Regions from separate parts of the Homo sapiens genome. Here region 2 is linked to region 1. The links come from fine-mapping of genetic effects on gene expression. A gene starts in region 1. The other region holds a variant in brackets. All regions are shown on one strand. Distances are from middle to middle.

Region 1 (16,712 bases):
AGGCCGCTAATGCTGGGCTGCTACTGATCTCCCACTGTGCCATCCAGGCAGTGGACCTATACCGTTCCACGGCCCAGGGGGTTGGGGACACCTGAATTAGATATCTAAATATAGTGAATTTGCATCATATGTATATTTATCTGAGGGAAAGTCAACGATAAGTACTCAGCAAAAAAATTTAACACATGAAAATAGCACCTTATTAGCATAGCTGATAATGCTTTAAATTTCACTCAGTGAGTATTTGCCCTGGAAAGAATATGAACTTAGAGGCATAACGTGAAGTTTCCTGAACTGGTCTCAGTTCCTGCCTCCCTATATTTGATTTTCACTTTATGTATTAACTTTAGAATCTCATCCTTGGATAAGAAAAAAATGCCACTGCAGATTTCAAAAAAGAATAGCTAGAGATTTTGACTCAACCATATTAGCATTTCCACCACAACACTAAATTAATACAATACACATAAACAGGATCAATGTTCTTGCTTTTAGCAATAAGTAAACAGGTACCTGAAAGATATTTGATGTGCTTCGATCCACCTGCCTCTGCCTTCCAAAGTGCTGGGATTATAAGCATGAGCCACTGTGCCCAGCTATTTTTCTAGTTTTAGCCATTAAACTGTCTGTCTTCCCACCATGGGAGATCAAAATTTAACTTCCTTTCCTGCAACCACCTCTGAGACACACATACACACACACCAAGGAAAGATTACATGCCATTCTCAAAAGTATAAAAATCCCAAATAGCCGGGCGTGGTGGCCCATGCCTGTAATCCCAACACTTTGGGAGGCCAAGGTGGATGGATCACCTCAGGTCAGGAGTTTGAGACCAGCCTGGCCAACATGGTGAAACCCCGTCTCTACTAAAAATATAAAAACTAGTCGACATGGTGGTGGGTGCCTGTAATCCCAGCTACTAAGGAGGCTGAGGCAGGAGAATTGCTTGAACCCAGGGGACAGAGGTTACAGTGAGCCAACACGGGGCCACTGCACTCCAACCTGGGCAACAAAGTGAGATTCCATTGCAAAAAAAAAAAAAAAAAAGGAATCCCAAATAAATATCAGCAAAAAGAATCCAGCAATTTGTAAGAAGGATAATATATCACGGTCATGTTGGTTTTATTGCAGAAATGCAAAATTGGGTGGGCAGATATGGGGCAATGTGCCTGCAGTCCCAGCTACTTGGGAGGCTGAGGCAGGAGGATCTCTGGAACCCTGGAGTTCCAGGCTGCAGTGTACTATGATTGCAACCGTGAATAGCTACTGTACTCCAGCCTGGGCAACATAGGGAGACCCCGTCTCTTTAAAAAAAAAAAAAAAAAAAAAGGAATACATAATCGGTTTAATATCAGAAAATCAACCTTGCAATTTACCTTACTAACAGATTAAAAGGTAAAAATCATATAATCATCTCAACAGATGAAGAAAAAAGTTAAGGGCTGGGGGCAGTGGCTCACACCTGTAATCCTAGCACTTTGGGCAGCCGAGGCAGGCTGATCACTTGAGCTCAGGAGTCCAAAGGGGCCTGGACAACACGGCAAAACCCCACCTCTACGAAAAATACAAAACTTAGCCGGGTATGGTGGCTCGCACATGTAGTCCCAGCTACTCTGGAGGCTGAGGTGGGAGGATCGCTTGACCCTGGGAGGCAGAGGCTGCAGTGAGCAGAGATCAAACCACTGCACTCCAGCCTGGGCAACAGAGAAAGACCCTGTCTCGGGGGGTGGGGGAGGATGCTTAATGAATTTTAACATCCTTTCCTGTTTAAAAAAACAAAACAAAACAAAACTTTTTTTTTTTTTTTTTTGAGGCAGAATCTTGCTCTGTGACCCAGGCTGGAGTGCAGTGACGCAATTTTGGCTCACTGCAACCTCTGCCTCCCGGGTTCATGCCTCCCAAGTAGCCTCCCTAGTAGCTGGGACTATAGGCACCCGCCACCATGCTCAGCTAATTTTTTGAAAAATACTCTTTTTTTAAAGCTATAGTTGTTTAAAAAAAATTTTTTTTTTCAAATGGGCCAGGCATGGTGGCTCATGCCTGTAATCCCAGCACTCTGGGAAGTCAAGGTGGGAGGACTGCTTGACTCCAGGAGTTTGACAGCAGCCTGGGCAACATAGTGAGATCTTGTCTCTACTAAAAATAAAAATAATTAACCAGGTATGGTAGCACATGCCTGTAGTCCCAGCTACTTGGGAGGGTGAGGCAGGAGGATAGCTTGAGCCTGGAAGGTAGGTGGTGCAGTGAGCCGTGATCACGCCACTAGACTCCAGCCTGGGCAACAGAGCTAGACCCTGTCTCGAAAACAAATTTAAAAAAATTTCTTTTTAATACAGCAAACGAGAAATAGAAGGTAAGTTAACAGTATATATTCAAAAAACTAATAGGAAAGATCAACTTAATAGTTAAACTTTGAAAACTTTCCAAGATCCAAAAAGTATGACAGCCATTTACTTCTATTCAATCCAACATCTAATTCGATTTCCAATATATATCCCCAATATCCCCAACCCACTCATTTTTTTGTTTTTTTTGGGGGGCCGGAGGGGGCAGGGAGACAGGGTCTTGCTCTGTTGTCCAGGCTGGAGTGCAGTGGTGTGATCTAGGCTTACTGCAGTCTCAAACTCTTAGGCTCAAGTAATCCTCAAGCCTCTTGAGGAGCTGGGGTTACAGGCACCTGCCACCATTCCTGGCTAATTTTTTTATTTTTATTTTTTGTAGAGCTGGAGTCTACTAGGCTGCCCAGGCTTGTCATGAGCTCCTGGCCTCAAGCAATCCTTCCAGCTCTGCTCCCAAAGTGTTGGGATTACCGGTATAAGCCAGCAGGCCCAGCCTCAATAAACATTTGCTGAATGAGTAATTAAGAAACAATTATTTGACCACCAACTCGCATATTTTTTCTCCTTTGGAAATATTTTCTTTTTTTTTCTTTTTCTTTTTTTTTTTTTGAGACGGAGTTTCCCTCTTGTTGCCCAGGCTAGAGAGCAATGGTGCCATCTCAGCTCACCACAACATCCCCATCCTGGGTTCAAGTGATTCTCCTTCCTGCCTCACCCGCCAGAGTAGCTGGGATTCCAGGCGCCTGCCACCACGCCCAGCTAATTTTTGTACTTTTAGTAGAGACGGGTTTTCACCATGTTGGTCAGGCTGGTCTCGAACTCTTCACCTAGTGATCTGCCCGCCTCGGCCTCCCAAAGTGCTGGGATGACAGGCGTGAGCCACCGCGCCCAGGGGAAATATTTTCAAATTCAGTGCACATGTTCAAAATTCACAGATAATAACTACTATCAACTCAAGATCACCTAAATATCTTTGTTGTTTAAAACAGTCATTAAGCATAATTCCTGTCCAATCTGTAGACCAATCAGTTAGCAATTAACTGATAAAATTCAAACTTACTGAAGTCCCCCTTTTAAAATATTCTGTAACTGTTAAGTTCCACTTTCAACACAAATAGGAGACTCCAGACTCACAAGTTAAGCCTCATTTATAAAACACTGGTACGGCCAAACTCTTGATTATTGACACATTAAGTTACTGGTTCCCGGGGCCTGGTGCGATGGCTCAAGCCTGTAATCTCAGCACTTTGGGAGGCCGAGGTGGGTGGATCACTTGAGGCCAGGAGTTCAAGACCAGCCTGGACAACATGGTGAAACCTCTGTCTCTACTAAAATTACAAAAAAATTAGCAGGGCAAAAAAATTAGCTAGGCATGGAAGCGTGTTCCTGTAATCCCAGGTACTTGGGAGGCTGAAGCAGGAGAATCCCCTGAACCCAGGAGGTAGAGATTGCAGTGAACTGAGATGGCACCACTGCATTCTGGCCTGGGCAACACAGTGAGTGAGACTCTGTCTCGAAAAGAAAAAAAAACAAAAAAGTTACTGATTCCAAACTGTGTACCTGGCACCCAAGGGTGCTGCAGCATACTCACAATGGTGTCCTGGGATATTTAAAAATTTTGAGAGATGCACAGCAGTTCTGAACACCTGTCAGGTACTGTGTGAACTACTAGATCAAAACAGTACATTTGCATTACATTAGTTTTAATAACATCACTGTAAAGATAAACTGTTTGCAGTTGCTGTGATAAAAAGCAAGTACCTTTTTTTTTTTTTTTTTTTTTGAGATGGAGTTTCACTCTTGTTGCCCAGGCTGGAGTACAATGGCGCAATCTTGGCTCACTGCAACCTCTGCCTCCCAGGTTCAAGTGATTCTCCTGCCTCAGCCTCCCAAGTAGCTGGGATTACAGGCATGCGCCACCACGCTTGGCTAATTTTGTATTTTTAGTAGAGACGCAGTTTCTGCATGTTGGTCAGGCTGGTCTCAAACTCCTGATCTCAGGTGATCTGCCTGCCTCGGCCTCCCAAAGTGCTGGGATTACAGGTGTGAGCCACCGTGCCCGGCCCAAAAGCAAGTATTTTTTATTAAAGTACTACAGGAAATGAGGGTGACAGGGTATAAACTGATTCCAAAGTTTCAGAAGTTGTGCAGTGTCCAACAGGCACAGATATCCAATCAGTAAGTGTGATTATTTAATAATAAAATTTTGGCCAGGCACAGTGGCTCACACCTGTAATCCCAGGACTTTGGGAGGCCAAGGCAGGCGGATCCCGAGGTCAAGAGTTCGAGACCAGCCTGGCCAACGTGGTGAAACCCCGTGTCTACTTAAAAATATAAAAATTGGCTGCGCATGGTGGCGGGTGCCTATAATCCCAGTTACTGCGGAAGCTGAGGCAGGAGAATCATTTGAACCCAGGAGGCGGAGGCTGCAGTGAGCCAAGATAGCACCACTGCACTCCAGCCTGGGTGACAGAGCGAGACTCCGTCTCACAAAAAAGAATAAATAAATAAATAAAATTTAAAATATCATATTTTCCTTCAATTTCTGTATTTTTTTAAATGGCTACTAAGTTTGGGACATATATACTTAATGTTTGGACCCAACCACTGTACTCAATAAATAGACTGTTAGGTATTTCTTTGATCTCAGGGTGCCATGCATCAAGAAAATTTGGGAACCACTACTCTAAATAATCCGTAGGTCCTCAAACAGCGACTGAGCCCAATTAGCCTTTGAGCTAAGAGTGTTTTTTTACCCTTTTAATGGATTGTAGAAAACAAGGCAAGCAATAACAACTAAACAAAGAATATGTGACAAAGACCATGTAGCCTGCAAAGCCTGAAATATTTACTATCTGGCTCTTTGCCCACTCCTACATTTATACGACCGATATCTAGAGTTAGTATTTTCCGGGATTGTAGGAGGATAAGAGTGAAATGACAGAGACTCTAGACCTGTGCTGTCCAATATAGTAGTTATTTACATTTAAATTAATGAAAATAAAATAAAATTTAATAATCAGTTCTTTGGTCACAATAATGACATTTCAAGTGCTCCATAGTCCCATGTCGCTAATGGGTAGTATGTTGGAGTGCACATATAAAACATTACCATTTTCACAGGAAGCCCTGTTGGACAGCACTGCTTTACTGGCAATATCTAGAGTCAGTATCTTTTACAGTCTATTATTTAACATCGAACACATCATTAATACTACCATTCCAAACATTTTAATTCAATTTACATGTATTTATCATCTTGTAAAGATTTCCAGCCATTCGCAAAGTCAAGAATTATACTGCTTTGACCCTAACCTTTAATTACCAAAATTTTACCACATATTAACTCCCATCTGTAAATCATCTCTCCAACCAACGTCCACCTCAAATGCGGTCTTCTCCACAAATCCATCACCAAAAGCATCAAATAAGCTCTCCCTTTTCCGTGCTCCCACACCACTTTAGAATGTCCTATAATCTTTTACATTCTGTCTTGTATTCTAGTTATTTGTGTATATTAGTTATTTCCCTTTGTAAACCCCTCTAGGTTTGGGAATCATCTGTCCCCGGCCCTATCACAGGATAAGGAACCCAATAAATATCTACAGGATTCGACGGAAGTGAAAACATCAATTTTAATATCTAGACTGGAATAAGCTTCTGCTTTGGTCTTCATCCACATCCTTTATCTGTTAATGCCTATTAAACCTATCTGTAAAATTCCAATCGGCAATACTTTTTCCTCCCTCAAACTTGAGTATTTAAATAAACGTGAAGAATAAGGGCTTAAATCCTGAGGAATAATGAACAGAAGAGGATTTTTAAAAACTAATTTGCGCAGTACTAATATTGACTTCATTTGTTAAGGTTATTATACTTGCAGAAAACGAAAAATCTGTTACGTGCGGCCAGCACTCCGAGCAGACACCTTAAACCACGAAGAGCTGAGAATTTTAAAATCACTCATTGCTGTCACTTCATTTAGAGCCAAAAAAAGCTTAAGTGAGAAATACAAACAGCCGAGAGGTCCCTAGGGAAGAGCGGCAGGGGTGCAAGAAGAGTCCGCGAGCCCTGACAGAGGACGGCAGGGCGGGGCGGAAGAGGACGCCAAGAGAGCGACGGACAAGCAACCCGAGCCGGGTGGCCGGAGGGGCCGAGGTGCAGGCGGAGAAGTGTTAGGGAAGCGGGAGGCGGCACAACGTACAGGCCGAGGAGGGGAAAAAGGGCACAGTGTGCCCGGCCCGGGGCAGGGGCGTCTACTCGGCCCGGCGCTAACGGAGGCCGCCAGGCTGAGGGAGCGTACCCTACCTCCCACCGCAGGAACTTCAGGGCGCCCAGACAAAACCCGAAGCCTTCCCTGAAGCCCAGAACGAAAGAGTCATTCTCTTTACCTGCCGCGGCAAACCTCCTCGACAAATTTTGCGCAGACTTGTTTGGGGTCCACACGCTCTGAGTTTCCTTAGAGCGGAAACAGACAGCCGCCTCTAGCAGTCCGCTCACAACGCCCGGCTCGCCTCAGTGAAGTATTCAAATCTAACCGCCTAGGTGATGCGCACGCGCAAAGCGGCTCTACGCGTCGGCTCCGCCCCTTAGGTTCCAGACCAACCCTATTTCTAAGACTCCTTTAGGGAAACTACTTTCCCAGACTCCGTGCCAATTTTATTTCCTTCAGCTTTATCTCTTTTTCGACCGAATTTCCTCTGCCCCTCCCCAGTGGAGACCTCCCCCACAATCGTGGGAGCGGCCATCTTCTTTCGATTGCTTGCTATGGAAGTGATTGGACTTTGGCTTCCGTACAAAATGGCGGCTTCCATAACATTGCGTCACAGCCCCTTGATATTACTCCCTATAGCAATCAGGAAACAGTAACTTACCGGGACGAGGTGGCCGAGTGGTTAAGGCGATGGACTGCTAATCCATTGTGCTCTGCACGCGTGGGTTCGAATCCCATCCTCGTCGATGTGGTGGCTTACTTTTGCTTGTAACCAAAGTAAATTTGCAGAGCAGAATAAATTTTTTAATAACCAAAGTAAATTTGCAGAGCAGAATAAATTTTTTAATAACCAAAGTAAATTTGCAGAGCGGAAAAACTTGAATACTTATTATTTATTACTCAATTAATCTGGCACCATCAGTTTCAGGCCTGAAATGTTGAAATACAGTATTTGGAACGTTCTGACATCACAGATAAAGAAAAGGGAGGGAAAGAGACTTTCCAGGAATCAGAAATCATGCTGGATTTAATTTCTTTTTATATGGAGTTAACAACAGTGAATAGAATTCCACAATTATTACCATCCCATATGTTCCAATGCTGCTCTGTTCCAACTTTAACACAGCTCCTAACTGAGGAGTTTCAATTATTGTAGACTGTTACTCTGGGGTTTTTAACACCTGTCCTGATTATGAGATACCAGGTTTCACTTCAAAAGCTACCATGAGACACTTTATCCGGTATTTATTATCTACAGGCACCACATGTTTTACATGAATTACATCACTATAACCCTTGATCATGACAAATATTTTTATTACTCCATTTTACAGATGAGGAGACTGAAAGATTAGCTTGCCCGAGGTTATACAGCTTCTAAATTGAAGAAAGGAGAGTGTAACCCAAATCTACTAGACGCTGGCTTAATCACCCTTCTAATCTGTGCTGTAGATTAATAATTAGTATTTATCAATCCTACACTGTGCTGTAGATTAATAATCAGTATTTATCAATCTTTTGCAGTCATGGTTTACAGATTGTCTCCTCCACAAGGCTGTCTGCATTGCACCATGCTCCACAACACGGCCTCTGGCAGGTGCTTCAGCAAGGTTTGGGCACTGAGTATGGAAAGCAGTGGCCCCATTCTCTGCTGGCTCCAGTGGCTTCTTTCTGTTACAGATCCAAATCCGTTGGGAATGTTGATACCTCCTTGGGCTCAGGACATTGAGTCACCCTTCCTTAGCCTTGCTCTCCAATGCATTCTCTACCCTGCTGCTAGGAAGGGTTTCTGCTGGGTTCCACGCATTTCCAAGGGGTCCATGGATAGAATTCAGTGGGTTATTTGGTTCAGAAAAAGATTTCATCCTTATTTCCACACTCCCTAATTGAAAGCACATCCTTCAATAACGGTAAGCAACTAACTACAGTAATATTAACCTTATCCATTATTTTGTCACCAATAGAAATCACAGATATTTTTATATCAGATTACTGTTATTGCTTTACGCTCATTGCTACTTCAAAATTGTGGTAATTTTTAGACCTGCTATTATGTCTTGTAATGTTATGCATTCATAAAGAAGTGCATGCATTAAGCTGGGCGCGGTGGCTCACACCTGTAATCCCAGCTCTTTGGAAGGCTGAGGTGGGTGGATCATTTGAGGTCAGGAGTTCAAGACCAGCCTGGCCAACATGGTGAAACCCCATCTGTACTAAAAATACAAAAATTACCCGGGCGTGGTGGCACGTGCCTGTAGTCCCAGCTACCGGGGAGGCCGAGGCAGGAGAACTGCTTGAACCCGGGAGGTGAAGGTTGCAGTGAGCCAAAATCATGCCACTGCATTCCAGCCTGGGCGACAGAGCAAGACTCCATTTCAAAAAAAAAAAAAAAAGTGCATGCATTATTATATTATTACATCACAAACTTTGAGAATATTTTGGCAACTATTCCAACAAAATTGGTTGCCTTTGTATTCTAACATATTTAATTTTATACATTTAAAAACAACATTCTGGCCAGGCATGGTGGCTCATGCCTGAAATCTCAGGAGCAGCCCTTGAGTCCGGGAGTTCAAAGACAGTCTGGGCAACATAGTGAGGCCCCTGTCTCTACAAAAAAATTTAAAAATTTAATCAAAATTTAAAAAAAATTCTGAGATGAGATCCTTAGACTTCCCCAGACTGCCAAAAGGGTCTGTGTCACAAAAAAAAGGTTAAGAGCCCCTGAGAGAGACCTTTCTAAATCTCCCTGGAGACACAGATCTACCTTTCCTTGAACTAGGATTTTTTCTCTTTCCACAACACGTTTGTAGATACCGTCCCTGCTCCTCTCCCTGCAACATACCCCTGACCCCACCCTCTTCTTTCCCATCATGTCACTGCCTGGGCGGCTCCTGCTTCTCCTTCGGATCTGAGCTTAGAGGTCACCCCCATCAACAAGCCCTGCAACCTGCAGCTCCCTCTTCCATTTCAACTAGCCCGTGCGCTCTCTCTTGCTTCTGGACCTTTGTAACCCTCCTAGACGCTTCTGTGGCCTGCTAGGCTTTTCCCAGCACTTGCCAGGGAAGTGCTGGGAATGCATTTGTAAATACATTTTTATTTACATTGCCCATTAGTGCTGCAACTTCTCTAGAGACGCCAGGGCTGCATCATTTTCCTGAGGTTTGCCAGCTTCTTGCAGTGATAACTATAGGTCTATCAACGTCTGTGCAGAGCATGGGTAGACTTTTTTTTTTTTTTTTTTGAGACAGGGTCTCGCTCTGTCGCCCAGGCTGGAGTGCAGTGGCACTATCTCCGCTCACCGCAACCTTCACCTCCCAGGTTCAAGCAGTTCTCCTGCCTCAGCCTTCCAAGTAGCTGGGATTACAGGTGTGTGCCACCACGCCCTGTTAATTTTTGTATTTTTAAGAGAGACTGGGTTTCACTGAAGAAGGAATTCATGAATTTTACAAGTATAATCAAAGACAACCGAAAATTTTTACTTTTTCCTTCAAAAGCTAAGTGTAGTGTAGCCACCTCCCCCCCGCCCCGCCCCCAGCCAAGTTAGAGAAGACCCCCGGCCAAGTTAGAGAAGAATACTAACTGCCTGCTTTTCCTTCTGTGCTCGGCGAGCCTTATCTGTACTTGCTAGTTTCACATTCCTTGAGGCTCAGCGAGTTCCTGCTTCCCCTCCCTAGGGCAGCTGCAAAGTTATAAGGTTGGTACAGAAACATGGTTTCCCAGGGATGTGGAACGTGTAGTATAGATAAATGTAAAAGACTGATCAACTGTCTTTGTTCTCGCTTCTGTAAGTACCCTTCCTGCATCACGTTGCTCCCGGCCACTGACTGCGTAAAACGTGGCTACTTTCTTTGTCTGGGGCTCAGACTTTCCTGGAGGCTAGTCCTACTGGGCCAAGTGACCACCTTTTAATAAAGACCTTTCCTGAACTCACTCTGTTCGGTCTCTCCCATCTTTTGATTGTCCCGCAACATCACCATGTTGGCCATGCTGGATGGGACGGCGTGCTGCATGGGCTGGGAAGATTATTTTTTCAAAGGAAAATCTTCAGCTGTATAAGTTATGAAAATGAAATGTACTGGCAGAATATAGAGGAAAAAAAAGAAAAAAATTGTGAGTTGAAAACTCACTTTTTTAGGCTGAGTACAGTGGCTCACACCTGTAATTCCAGCACTCTGGAAGGCTGAGGTGGGAGGATTGCTTGAGTCCCGGAGTTCGAGACCAGCCCAAGCAACATAGGGAGAATCTGTCTCAAGAAAGAAGGAAAGAGAGAGAAAAAGAAAGACAGAAAGAAAGAGAAAGAAAAAGAAAATAAGAAAGAAAGAAAGACAAGAAAGAAAAAAGAAAGAAAGAAAGAAAGAGGCTGGTGTGGTCGCTAGCGCCCGTAGTCCTGCGAGGCTGAGGTGGGAGGATCGCTTGAGCCCCGGAGGTTGAGGCTGCGGTGAGGCGTGATCGGTCCACTGCACTCCAGCCTGGGCGACACAGCGAGACTCCGTCTCAAAAAAAAAAAAAAAAAAAAAAAAGTCAAGGGAAAGAAAAAGAAATACTTCAATTAGAAACGGAAAGAGAAGCTTGTAAGAAGCTGACAGGAAAAGAGTTAGAGGCGCCATCTACTGGAGCAGCTGCAACTGCAAGACTCGGACAAGATGCTCTTATCTACAGGGATGGATGCTCTCGTCTACCGAGATGGATGCTCTCGTCTACAGAGATCTCCATTAACTCCCCAAATTCTTCAACAAACCACAGCTCAAAGAAACCGTTCTCTACCAACACCAACGTTCTTCCTTGCAAGTACTATCCTCAACTATTGCAGGACACCTCAACCTCTGGAAGACCACAGCAAAGGACTGTTGCATAAATATCTTACCAAGATATTCCAGCTCTTTTACTATTGGAGTGTTAGGCAATGCGTCTTCATTATCTGGGGCCAGCTTTAAGAGGACCAATTCCCTCTTTTGAAAATGAGGTTCTCTGGGAATCAATGGCCAATGTTTATTATGAAATAATAAACTGGTCCACAGCCCAGACAGGCTGTGTGTGTCAGCAGCAGCCCTTATATGACATAGCTCTGAAGGAAGAATTGAAATCAATGCTTTGTTTTTGTTTGTTCGGTTTGGCTTTTTTTTTTTTTTTTGACACATCTAAAGTTTATTTCTTAACTCTTGCAAGAAAAACCCAGACCTCAGGCTCCAAGACTTGCAAAGACTGGTTTTGAGAGGCAGGCAATGACAGAAGTGAAGTCAATTTGTTCCTTACCATTAGGTTCTCCCACTGGAGAACCATCTCTGGGAACACAGTGATGACAGGGTCTGGAGAGGTTCCATAGTGAATCCATGCATTCTGCTCTGAGTCTACAACACCGACCCAAAACGTTTTTCTTTTCTAAAATCATTCCCTGAGATGTACTCTATCGTGTGAAAATACTACAACAACTTCTAGGAATGTCTAGTGAACTGAAAACTAAATAACATTTTCATATTGAAGATCAGTAGAGCAAAACGGAAATCCAGTTTTAGTAACATTGTCTAGGAAAGCCAAGATGAATGAGTAAATGCCAAAGACTCAGGGAAATAGGGAATAACACTTTATGGTATATCCCAAGCTGAGGTAGTGATGGATAGTTAGCCAGTTGTTTATCTGATCGTTTTCTTTTTTCCTTTTTTTTTTTTTGTGAGACAGAGTCTCACTCTGTCACTCAGGCTGGAGTGCAGTAGCGCGACCTTGGCTCACTGCAACCTCCGCCACCCAGGTTCAAGCGATTCTCTCATCTCAGCTTCCTGAGTAGCTGGGATTACAGGTGCGCGCCACACCACACCCAGCTAATTTTTATATTTTTAGTAGAGATGGAGTTTCATCATGTTGGCTAGGCTAGTCTCAAACTCCTGACCTCAGGTGATCTGCCCCGCTCAGCCTCCCAAAGTGCTGGAATTACAGGTGTGAGCCACCGTGCCTGGTCTAGAATTCTGATTTTTAAATTATTGAATAACACAGAAACTTGACATCTGAAAAAATGTTTTGTTTTTGTTTTGATTTTTTAGCTTTAAAAAACTGAAATAGTTCCTTAATGTCAGTTTCTGGGAACTCACTGAAAGGATCACTTCCAATCAACTCTCCTTTCAATGACTGTCAGTAGTCATTTTTTATATAACCTAGGAGGTATCAGAGGTGGCCTTTATTTCAGCCCAAGATGCAAGGCTTTAAAATTCTTTTTTGAGGCCAGGTGCCATGGCTTATGCCTGTAATCCCAGCATGTTGACAGGCCAAGGCAGAAGTTCTGCTTGAGGCCAAGAGGTCGAGACCAGCCTGGGTAATACAGTGAGACCCTGTCTCTACAAAAAATGAAATTAAAATTAAAAAAATTAGCCAGGCGGCTGGGCACGGTGGTTCACGCCTGTAATCCCAGCACTTTGGGAGGCCAAGGCAGGCAGATCACCTGAGGTCAGGAGTTCGAGACCAGCCTGGCCAATGTGGCAAAAAAACCCATCTCTACTAAAAATACAAAAATTAGCCAGGCATGGTGGCATGCACCTGTAACTCCAGCTACCCAGGAGGCTGAGGCAGGAGTATCACTTAAACCCAGGAGATGGAGGTTGCAGTGAGCCGAGATTGTGCCACTGTACTCCAGCCTGGGAAACAGAGTGAGACTCTACCTCAAAAAAAAAAAAAAAAAAAATTAGCCAGGCATGGGTGTGCACACTTGTGGGCCCAGCTACTCGGGAGGCTGAGGCAGGAGGATCATTTGAACCCAGGAGTTCCAGGTTGCAGTGAGCCTTGATCATGCTACCGTACTCCAGCCTGGGTGACAGGCTGTCTCAGAAAAACCCAAAAAATTTTGCTTAAACAACAAAAATTTATTGTCTCCCAGTTCTGGAGGCTAAAGTCTGAGATCAAGGTGTCAACAGGGTTGGTTCCTTAGGAGGGGTGTGAGGGAGAATCTATTTCATATCTCTCATCTAGCTTCTGTAGTTTACTGGCAGTTTCTGGCATATCTTGGCTTATAAAATGACTAATCCTTGCAATTTTGCTTCAGTTGTGATTCTGGAAGATTTGGCATTTAGATCAGATATAAAGCTTTCCTTTTAAAATTCCTAACCTACTTTAACTTCAACATTTGGAATGTTGGAAAGAAAAAAGAACCAGAATAATTGCATCACTTATTATTTACTTGAATTACTAAAACATTTTCAAGAACCTTTTGTCTAGATGTCTTGGTAATGAAGAGATAGAAGATGCAAGTTCTTGGGCTCTTTGTGTCGGAGAGCATGCGGGGTCTAGAATTCCAAAGCCATGAACTGCTTTTAGATCCCTCAGTTCTTTTATGATGGAGAAGTTGTATTTGAATCTGCTAAGGCAAATTAAAGCAGTTAGTCATTTTTGCAAATTATTATTATTATTATTTTTGAAACGGAGTCTTGCTCTGTCGCCCAGGCTGGAGTGCACTGGCGCTATCTCAGCTCACTGCAAGCTCCACCTCCTGGGTTCATGCCATTCTCCTGCCTCAGCCTCCCTAGTAGGTGGACTACAGGCGCCCGCCACCATGCCTGGCTAATTTTTTTTTTGTATTTTTAGTAGAGACAGGCTTTTACCGTGTTAGCCAGGATGGTCTCGATCTCCTGACCTCATGATCCGCCCACCTCAGCCTCCCAAAGTGCTGGGATTATAGGTGTGAGCCACCAAGCGCCTGGCCCATTTTTGCAAATTATTAATTATTGCTTACCATTATAGTCTCCAAAATACTAGGTGTATGGTGTTATCTTTCCACCACTGGTGAAAACAACCCATGGTCTAGGCACTTTGGAGTAGCACCCACCAGCTGTGTGAAGGTCAAATGGATCTTAAAGAGTTGTGCAGTGGGACTGAAAGAGGAGAGTCACTATTTCAGAGATAACCAAATGTTAAAAAAAAGAGGTGAGATATTTTAATATTTGTTGTTTAAAAGTTTTATCTTGATAGTATTACACAATTATACAATACATACATACGTAATGTAATATGCATGTACAGTTTAAAAATAACAATAATAAGGCCAGGTGCAGTGGCTCACACATGTAATCCCAGCACTTTGGGAGGCCAAGGTTGGGGACGATCGCTTGAGGCCAGTAGTTCGAGACCAGCCTAGGTAACACAGTGAGACTCTGTCTCTACAAAATATTAAAAATTAGCCAGGTGTGGTGGTATGCACCCATATTCTCAGCTACTCAAGAGGCTCAAATGGGTGAATCACTTGAGCCCAAGAGTTCCAGACAGGCCTGGGAAACATGGCAAAACCCTGTCTCTACCAAAAATGCAAAAATTAGCTGGGTGTGCTGGTGTGTGCTGCGGTCCCAGCTACTCAGGAGGCTGAAGTGGGAGGATCACTTGAACCTGGGAGGTCGAGAGTACAGTGAGCCATGATCGTGCCACTGCAATCCAGCCTGGGCAACAGAGCAGGACCTTGTCTCCGAAAAAAAAAAGAAAGAAAGAAAGAAAGAAAAAAACAGCAATGCTGTATATACACCACCCAGCTTGAGAAATAGAACATTACCAGCCCCTTTGTTTCTTTTTTAAAAAATGATTTTTAATTATTTTAATTTTTTTTTCCTACCCTCTTGGCAGGTGGCAGATTACTAGCACCTTTGATGCTTCCTGTGTGTCCCTTCCTGGAGGCATCCTCCCACCAAAAAGATAACTACTTTGGCCGGGCACAGTGGCTCACGCCTGTAATCTCAGCACTTTGTGAGGATGAGGCAGGCAGACCACGAGGTCAGGAGTTTGAGACCAGCCTCACCAATATGGTGAAACCCTGTCTCTACTAAAAAAAAAAAAAATACAAAAAATTAGCCAGGCGTGGTGGCGGGCGCCTATAATCCCAGCTACTCGGGAGGCTGAGGCAGGAGAATCGCTTGAACCTGGGAGGCGGAGGTTGCAGTGAGCCAAGATCCCGCCACTGCACTCCAGCCAGGGAGACAGAGTGAGACTCCATTTCCAAAAAAAAAAAAGGTAACTACTTTTTGTTTGTTTGTTTGTTTGTTTGTTTGAGACGGAGTCACACTCTGTCGCCCCCGGCTGGAGTGCAGTGGCGCGATCTCGGCTCACTGCAAACTCCGCCTCCCGGGTTCATGCGATTCTCCTGCCTCAGCCTCCCGAGAAGCTGGGATTGCGGTGCATGTCACCACGCCTGGCTAATTTTTTGTATTTGTAGTAGAGACGGGGTTTCACCGTGTTAGCCAAGATGGTCTCGATCTCCTGACCTCGTGATCCACCTGCCTTGGCCTCCCAAAGTGCTGGGATTACAGGCGTGAGCCACCGTGTCTGGCAAAGATAACAACTTTTCTGAATTTCATGTTAATCATTCTCTTGTTTTTCTTACCAAATATACATATTTATACATATTTGTAGTCTTAAATATGTTTTGTCTGTTTTTTAATTTTATATAATGTATTCATTTTATATAACGTATTCATCTGTAACTTCTGTCACTGGACACTGTTTTATCCGTATAATTCGTTCATTTTCACTGCTGATTAGTTTGCAATTATCTGAACATACAATTAGGTATCCATTCTCTTATTGATGGATATTTTTGTTATCTCCAGTCTTTTGCTGCAAGAACACTGCTGTGACTGTTTTTATATGTCTCTTGGGGCACATGTACAAGTGTTTCTGTAGGTAGATAGCTAGAAGTAGAGTCATTGGTTATGTGTGTGTTCAACTTTAGTAGGCAATTCTTAACTGTTTTCACCTAGTTAATGGTTGACAAAAATGTTGCAGTTTTGAAAACGTGGACAAGCTTCAAATGAAAAGAAGAGGATGACAGAGGACTTGGAGGGGAAGAAAACAAAAATCATAATCATAGACAATATTGTTCACCATGTACAAGACAGTGTTCTAAGCAGAATGAGTGCCTTTGGTGATGATACCTCGTCAGGACCACAGTAAACTTACCCAACTAAAAACTGGTCACATTCCATGGCTGTTCTGCTTCTGTCTTTGGTTTTCAATAATCCTATGTTCTAGAATATGTGAGTCTTGAGGATCAATCATCCAAACCTCGAAAAGGCTTTGAAATCAGTCCATTTTCTCTAAAGTCTTTGGAAGCAAGATTGACTCAAGCAAGTCTAGGTCATCCGTGAAAAGATACAGACATTCAGGGAAACCCATGGTTCCAACCCTGACTGGAA
Region 2 (8,000 bases), 58 kb before region 1:
AATGGCGCAGTCTTGGCCCACTGCAAGCTCAGCCTCCCAGGTTCAAGCGATTCTCCTGCCTCAGCCTCCTGAGTAGCTGGGACTACAGGCGCCCGCCACCACACCTGGCTAATTTTTTGTACTTTTAGTAGACACGGGGTTTCACCATGTTAGCCAGGATGGTCTCGATCTCCTGACCTCGTGATCCGCCTACCTCAGCTTCCCAAAGTGCTGGGATTACAGGCATGAGCCACCGTGCCTGGCCTTTTTTTTTTTTTTAAACTACCTGATTTGAAGTCACATAAAACTCAGTACTTTAGAATCCTACTCCTTCTGTGTAGCAGAGTTTTTTCCACAGGAAGTTGAAGGGTTATCCTTGAATCATTATTCTCTGTATCTAGTAAAGGCTCCCCTGAGACTGTTCAACTACATTGATTGGTATGTCTTTGAAGGACATTTAAAAGGTAGTACACAGCTATATTTGTTAAGGCCTCCTCTTTTAACCCCTAACTTCTGTGCAAAGATAATTTTATTTTCAGCAATCATATAAGGAAAATGGCTATCATCTCTCTACAACTCCTATCATTGTATAAATACAGTAAAAATGAGTTATGCTTTTAGCATTGCTATAATACATTTTAGGTAGCTGAGATAGCTGCTCGCTCCCCCAGACTCTAGAGTTAACTGTCTCCTGAATTGATTATTTTCTCTTTATTGAATGCTTTGTTACATATTTTCTATGTGTTAGGCACTGTGGATACCATGAGAAAAACAGCATACTCAACCTGTGCCCTCAAGCTTACAACTCAGGGAGACACACAACTGCACTAATAAACACAGCAAGAACTACAAACTATGATAAGCACTATTAAGGAAAACCACAGAAAGCAAGAACATACAACAGAAGGGTGAGAAACTGATCACTGAGAGCTGAGCTCTTACAATTATTAGTAGGAGTTCATTAGTGAAGTGGGGGAAAACAGCGTTCGGGCATAAGAAACATCAGCATGAAGGTGTTGAGATAGGATGAATATGGCTGAGCAGGAAACACCATGATCATTTAAGGAAATAAAAGAAGTCCACTGTGGCCAACGTGCAGAGGTAGGAAGGTAGTATGAGATAGGAAAAGGAGAAAAATTCAATTCAGGCAACGCTTCATAGGCTAGATCAAATACTTTGATCATTAGCCTAAGAGTAATAGGTGCATAGTCAGATTTTCAGTAATCACTATAGCTTCAGGGAGGAGGAGGAGAAGATCCATAAAGTCCAGTTGGAATGTTACTGTAGTCATCTAGGTTAGAGATGATTATTGACAGAACAGATGAAAAACAGTGGATGAATATTAAGAAATTAAAACCAGTAGGTTGGGCGCTGTGGTTCATGCCTGTAATCCAGCACTTTGGGAGGCCAAGGTGGGCAAATCGCTTGAGGCCAGGAGTTGAGACCAGCCTGGACAACACATATGGTGAAACCCCATCCCCACAAAATATAAAAAAATTAGCCGGGTGTGGTGGCGCATGCCTGTAATCCCAGCTACTTGGAAGGCTGAGGCAGGAGAATCACTTGAACCCAGGAGGCAGAGGTTGCAGTGAGCAGAGATTGCACTACTGCACTTCAGCCTGGGTGGAAGAGTGAGACTGTCTCAAAAAAATAAATAAATAAAAATAAATAAATAAAAACAAAAAGCATGTCTTACTGATGATTTGAATATGTACAGCGAGGGAGAAAGAGGTATAGAGTGATTCCTAAGTTTTAATTTTGGACCTGGACAGAAGGTAACGCTATTCATTGAGAAAAGAAACTTTCAAGGAGAATCAGGTTTAGAGGCCCAGAGATTGTGAAGATCCTACGTTCCAATACGGCCATGTTTGCCCATGGTTGGCCATGTTGACGCTGACTGGTTAAAGAGAAAATACCTAAAAGACACTGACAACTAGTAAACTCCAACAAAACAGCTGGGCCTCTGTCCAGTTACCATATAGTGATTTCCACCCTATATAGTGATTTTATCCTTTTAGATGATAAACCCACCTATACACACAGAACTTCCAATTAACTTGTTAGGGCCTCATTCTTTTTTTTTTTTTTTTTTGAGACAGTTTTGCTCTGTTGCCCAGGCTGGAGTGCAGTGGCACGATCTTGGCTCACTGCAACCTCCACCTCCTGGGTTCGAATGATTCTCCTGTCTCAGCCTCCCGAGTAACTAGGATTACAGGTGCATGCCCAGCTCATTTTTTGTAGTTTTAGTAGAGATGGGGTCTCACCATGTGGGCCAGGCCGGTTTCGAACTCCTGACCTCAGATGATCCGCCCACCTCAGCCTCCCAAAGTGTTGGGAGTACAGGCGTGAGCTGCAGGGCCTCACTCTTAAGTAAAAAAAGAAAAAAAAAAAAAAAAAGAATCTCCAGCCATTAGGGTAAATTCTCTATTCTCTATCACGAAAGATGGAGATGAAAAGAAAGAAACTCATAGTAAATAGACATGAGTAGCATGTTTATCCATTATTTGCAGAGCAAAATTTTTATTTAATGTAATTCAACAAAGGGCAACGTTCACTAATTCCATTTTTATTTTATTCTTTACAAAATAAAATAAAATTCTGCTATCAATAAAGTGACTGTTCTAAGACTTTCAGCAGTGCTCTCATCATGCCAATAGTTATCAGTATAGTAAAATAAAGATTTGAATCTTTAGTGAGTGTAGCCATTCATTTTTCTGTAAAAGAATTATCTCACTTTGGCTCCTTACCAACTGACTCTTCAAAGGTGATGGTGAGTTGTATCGTGTCATAAACAAAGGTGAATACAGCTTGATCATCACTCCACTCAACGACATCCCACTCAGACAAGCTGTAGAGAGATAAACAAGATTTTTAAAAAGCGTTTTTAAAATTAACATAAAAGAGAACTTCTGATACCACCCAAACAGTACCAACAGCAGCTGCTAATGTTTTTCCACTGGACTGGGAGAAAATATTTCAATTCATATATTGTGGATGTACAAACTTAAGCTTTTGAAATAACTAAGAACCCAATCTTGAGTTGTATATCAGAGAAACACCAAGTCTACGCAATGAAAAGTATAAAATATGGAAAAATTATAATTCCATAGTTCTTCTACTCTATTTCCAGCTTACTGTTGAGTACACTGACTCTTTTTGAAACAGCACTGTATAGGTTAAAAACAGCAACACATTAAAAATACATCAATTGCTCCAATCGGTTTAAACAACCACAAGGTACAGAATAAAACACAAACAAATGATGCCTGCATTTCCTTACCTCAACTGATCCAGTAGCTCTTCAGTTCTATTTCTTTGTTTTTGCATAAAGTCTATTTGAGCAAGGGTCTGCTCTTTTTGTACCTCCAGTTCTAAGAGATTTCTGCAAATAAAAGCAGGTATTCAGAGAGATAAGGTTTTTGTTAGAGAATTCACTCTATCAATATAAAAGGTTTATGATAAGAAGTCACATGCTACATGACTCCCCATTGAGGTAATAATGTTAGGTGTATGGCATCCATTTCTGCATTCTTAGTTTAGTTTTTTTTTTTTTTTTTATATAAGCATTAATCTAGAAGTGGGTCTACCTGGGAAAGGCATAAATCATTGTTTTTCAAATTAGGATCCATGAAGATATCCTTGGGATTCACATGTTAAGATAACTTTTAAATACTACATTTTTATTTTTGATAAAAAGCAAAAATATAAAAATATAAGCATAATGTAGATCATAAGATATACTTTAAAACTGAGACATGTCACAGTTTTTTTTTTTTTGCCTGTATTTGGTTTCGTTTAGTTGTTAGAGCTAAACAGAACATATCTTTGTTAATCATTTTGCTAGCATCAATTTAATTTCAGCCAAACACTATCACCTGTCAAATTAATGTTGTCAACTAGAATTTTAGTGGCTTTGTCATTATTTCTATTTACTTTCTTTTACACTTACAGTTGAATAAGATTCATAGGCCTAAGAAATATATACTTCATTTTATACTTGTTTATATTTACATTTATTAAACAAAAAGGATACTGGTAGTATTCAAGCTTGAGAAACACTGTTGTGGATAAATGCCCTGTAAACAATAAGTGCTTCAAAACTACTGTTGACTAAGATGGACTCTAGGTTTCCATTCAAAGTGGAGAAGCCCTGAGTCAGCCTCAATCAAGACTCATGTCCCCAAATCCTGTCAGTCTCTGGAGGCAGGAAGTCATCTAGCCTTCTGTGATTTAGCATTATATTTTCTAACACTTGGATTGAAGGCTGACCTTTGAAGCTCCTCTTCTTCAGTTTTCAGCTGTTCCAATTCTTTGGAAACAGAAAAAAAAAAAAAACAGAACAAACATATTAGAATGTTGCCACAAAAATCTGTTTTATTGAAAATTCTGACTTAATCTCACCAAAGTATATAAACAAACTCAGAACAGAAGGGCTTCCCCCACACCCATTTATCTCCTTAACTAATTCAATTACCTTTTTCTGCAGCTCTCATTTCAGAATCCCATTCTTCCACAGGATTGTTTTTCTCTTCATCCTCCAAATTCTTAGTTTCTAAAGTAGACAGTATTTGTTAGAATAATTCAGTGAAAAATAGTAAAAAAAGAAAACAAAGTAAGGAAAAAAAGAATAATTCAATCAAAAACAATTTATTAAACGACAGATTGTTTCTTTGGTAGTAGGAAGTTCAGAAGTTCTAGTCTGATGGTTTCTATTTTTTTTTTTTTT[T/C]CTGTGAAAGAGAAAGTAAGGTAGTCAACAAAGGGGTGAACTTTAGACTATGGAATTCATGTACTCATGGTCAATTCAGTGCAAAAAACATGTACTAGGCACTTACTCTGTATGAAATATAGTCCTAGGGACTCTGAAGGAGATGGAGAAAAAGAAGAGCTGATTCCTGCCTCCACAGAGCTTATAATTTAATCAGGAAGATAAACTATACAAAATAACTATAATACAAGTAGATGTGATGGGTAATATAAGAAGTACTAACAAAAGAGCCATGAGAGCTCAAGGAAAAGAGACTACTTTCTTTGGTGAAAAACAGAAAGAGAACGTAGTATGTAGTAGCAAAGACCAAAGTAGAAATGATCAGGCTAGTGGCATGTGCCTATAGTCCCAACTACTCAGGAGGCTGAGGAAGGAGGATTCCTTGAGCCCAGGAGTTTGAAGCTGCAGTGAGCTATGATCATGCCACTGCACCCCAGCCTGGGCAACAGAGTGAGACTCTGCCTCTCTTTTTTTTTTTTTAAATAAAAGAAAAAGGCAGGCGTAGTGGCTGATGCCTGTAATCCTAGCACTTTGGGAGGCTGAGATGGGCAGATCACTTGAGGCCAGGAGTTGAGACCAGCCTGGCCAAGATGGTGAAACACCATCTCTACTAAAAATACAAAAATTAGCTGGGGGTGGTGGTGCATGCCTGTAATCCCAGCTACTTGGGAGGCTGAGGCACAAGAATTGCTTGAATCCAGGAGGCAGAGGTTGCAGTGAGCAGAGATCATGCCACTGCACTCCAGCCTGGGTGACAGAGAGAGATTCTGTCTCAAAAAAGTGGCAGAACTGCATAAAAATAGCAATGTTTGGTTAGAATTTAAGAGGTGTATGGGAGTAGTAACAAATCATGTAAATCTGAAAACAACTGTAGAAGATATGAAATGTCAAGCTCAGAAGTTTGGACTTTTTTTTTTTCTTTAAGCCAACCACAGAGAAAGTTAAGTTTGGGCCAGGCGCAGTGGCTCACACCCGTAATCCCAGCACTTTGGGAGGCCGAGGCGGGCGGATCACCTGAGGTCGGGAGTTCGAGATCAGCCTGACCAACATGGAGAAACCCCGTCTCTACTAAAAATACAAAAAAAAAAAAATTAGCAGGGCCTGGTGGTGCATGCCTGTAATCCCAGCTACTCGGGAAGCTCAGGCAGGAAAATCGCTTGAATCTGGGAGGCGGAGGTTGCAGTGAGCAGAGATTGTGCCATTGACTCCAGCCTGGGTAACGACAGTGAAATACCATCTCAAAAAAAAAAAAAAAAAAGAAAGTTAAGTTTGGACTTTATAATAAATGGAAAGACAGAAGTTTTTCAGAGGAGTAACATTAATGAAAACTGTCTTTCATAATTATTAATCTGGCAGCAATGTGCAGGTTGGAATGGAAGAAGGTGGAATAATGGTAAGAATGTATAAAGATTAGTTAGAAGACTGAAATAGCACAGTTCAGAATTAAGGTGAGCCTTAATAGGAAAGGAAAATAAACACATGAGATGCTGAAGCTGCCGATGACAGGACTTGTTAAGAGAGCCTCAAAGACAATGAAAGTATTGAGCTTTTACAATGTATAAGAATTGTGACTGCTATACATAAAGATGAGAAACATCATAAGAGAGAACAAGTTTTTGAATTTTATTTTTGAGCTCGGAGAATATATTTAAATTTATTTATTTAGTTTGCTCTGTTGCACAGGCTGGAGTGCAGTGGTGTGATCTTGCCTCACTGTAGTCTTGACCTCCTGGGCTCAAGAGATCTTCCTGCCTCAGCCTCCCAAGTAGCTAGGACTACAGGTATGTGCCATCACGCTGAGCTAATCTCTTGTTTTTTGTAGAGATAGTGCCTCACTCTGTTGCCCAGGCTGTATTCACAGTTTAAGGTGTTTAAGGATATTTTTTGCATACAGGTTCAGAAGGAAGCTAGAAATTGAGTCTAGAATTCAAGAAAGAGAGGCTAAAGATGCCCTCACCTGAAATGATTATAAGCTACCTTTAGGGCAAAATCTGTGTCTTAAATATTTTTATTTATTTTCTGATACTAAGCACAGTATCTGGCATGCAGTATATGCTCAAAAAATGCTTGAGGAATTTAAATTTGGGAATCAGTCACATAATTATTAAGGCACACGAAAGCACTAGGGGAGAGAATATAGAAAAGAACAGATGATAAAATCTAAATCCCCACAAGGGATCAGTTAGAGAAAGAGAGGCCAACAGAGAAGCTGGATTGAGCAGCCAGGAGAAAACAACTGGGTCAAGATAGTGCATTATCACAGAGATTAAGGGAGATGAACATTTCAGGAAGAAAAGAACAGTCATCAGTGTCAAATGCTGAAAGAGGTCAAAATGGCTAAGGACTGAGAAGAACAAAATTTGATGACTATGCAGAATTATGTGATCTTTGAGAAAGGAGTTTCAGGAGAGTAACTCTAAAAAGTTGGGATTATGAAAGACCAAACTGAAAGGATAGACGGTTTTCAAACTGAGATAAATTCATCTATTAAAAAACACAAAATTACAGTCTGGGTTATCTTGAGCAGCTCTTGATTGTATTATGGATGACTATAGTAAAGGAACTTTAATTTGCTCTAATTTATTTATTTATTTATTTTATTATTATTTTTTTTGAGATGGAGTCTCGCTCTGCCACCCAGGCTGGAGTGCAGTGGCGCAATCTTGGCTCACTGCAACCTGCACATCCTGGGTTCAAACTATTCTCCTGCCTCAGCCTCCCGAGTAGCTGGAGTACAGGCGCCCGTCACCACGCCCAGCTAATTTTAAAATTTTTAGTAGAGATGGGGTTTCACCATGTTGGCCAGGCTGGTCTCAAACTCCTGACCTCAGGTGATCCGCCCGGCTTGGCCTCCCAAAGTGCTGGGATTACAGGCGTGAGCCAATTTACTCTAATTTAATATCTCAAGTTGCTAATACAAGTCTTCAATATCGTGGTACCAACATTCTCTACTGTAGGAGAGCATTTAGATAAAATTAAATTTTCTTTTGGAAAAGTATTTAAAATACTTTACCTGTTTCCATCTCAGTGAGGCAGTTATCGATCTTCTTAAGTATTTTATCCATCTCATCTATCTTTATTTGAAGTTTCTCCCTCTCATTCTAAATACAAAAGATTATAGACTGTCAAGTTAAACCTCTAAAGAAAATATTATAAATGGTTCAAACTGCTCACATAATCGCTCTATCATGATCACAAACAGGCAAATCTTTTTTTTTTTTTTTTTTTTTTGAGGCGGAGTCTCATTCTGTTACCC

Evidence for each region. PIP is the estimated chance that this variant, and not a neighbour inherited with it, causes the effect.
Region 2: its variant is fine-mapped to the expression of KNL1 in whole blood (TOPMed, PIP above 0.99).

Annotation. Positions count from the first base shown.
Region 1 is chr15:40,584,411-40,601,122 of GRCh38, reverse strand. KNL1 (kinetochore scaffold 1) reads right to left here and starts at 6,874. Exons shown (of 26, transcript NM_144508.5): 1 at 6,731-6,874. It overlaps TRS-GCT4-2 (tRNA-Ser (anticodon GCT) 4-2), which reads left to right and starts at 7,217; the gene lies at 7,217-7,298. RefSeq lists enhancers at 6,395-6,714, 6,935-7,154, 10,902-10,951 and a silencer at 7,275-7,324.
Region 2 is chr15:40,646,832-40,654,831 of GRCh38, reverse strand. It overlaps KNL1 (kinetochore scaffold 1), which reads right to left. Exons shown (of 26, transcript NM_144508.5): 17 at 7,758-7,845; 18 at 4,454-4,531; 19 at 4,249-4,288; 20 at 3,260-3,361; 21 at 2,727-2,827. Among named protein-coding and RNA genes, the nearest start is that of RAD51-AS1, 44 kb to the left of the region's middle. The variant T/C (reference allele first, on the strand shown) is at 4,706.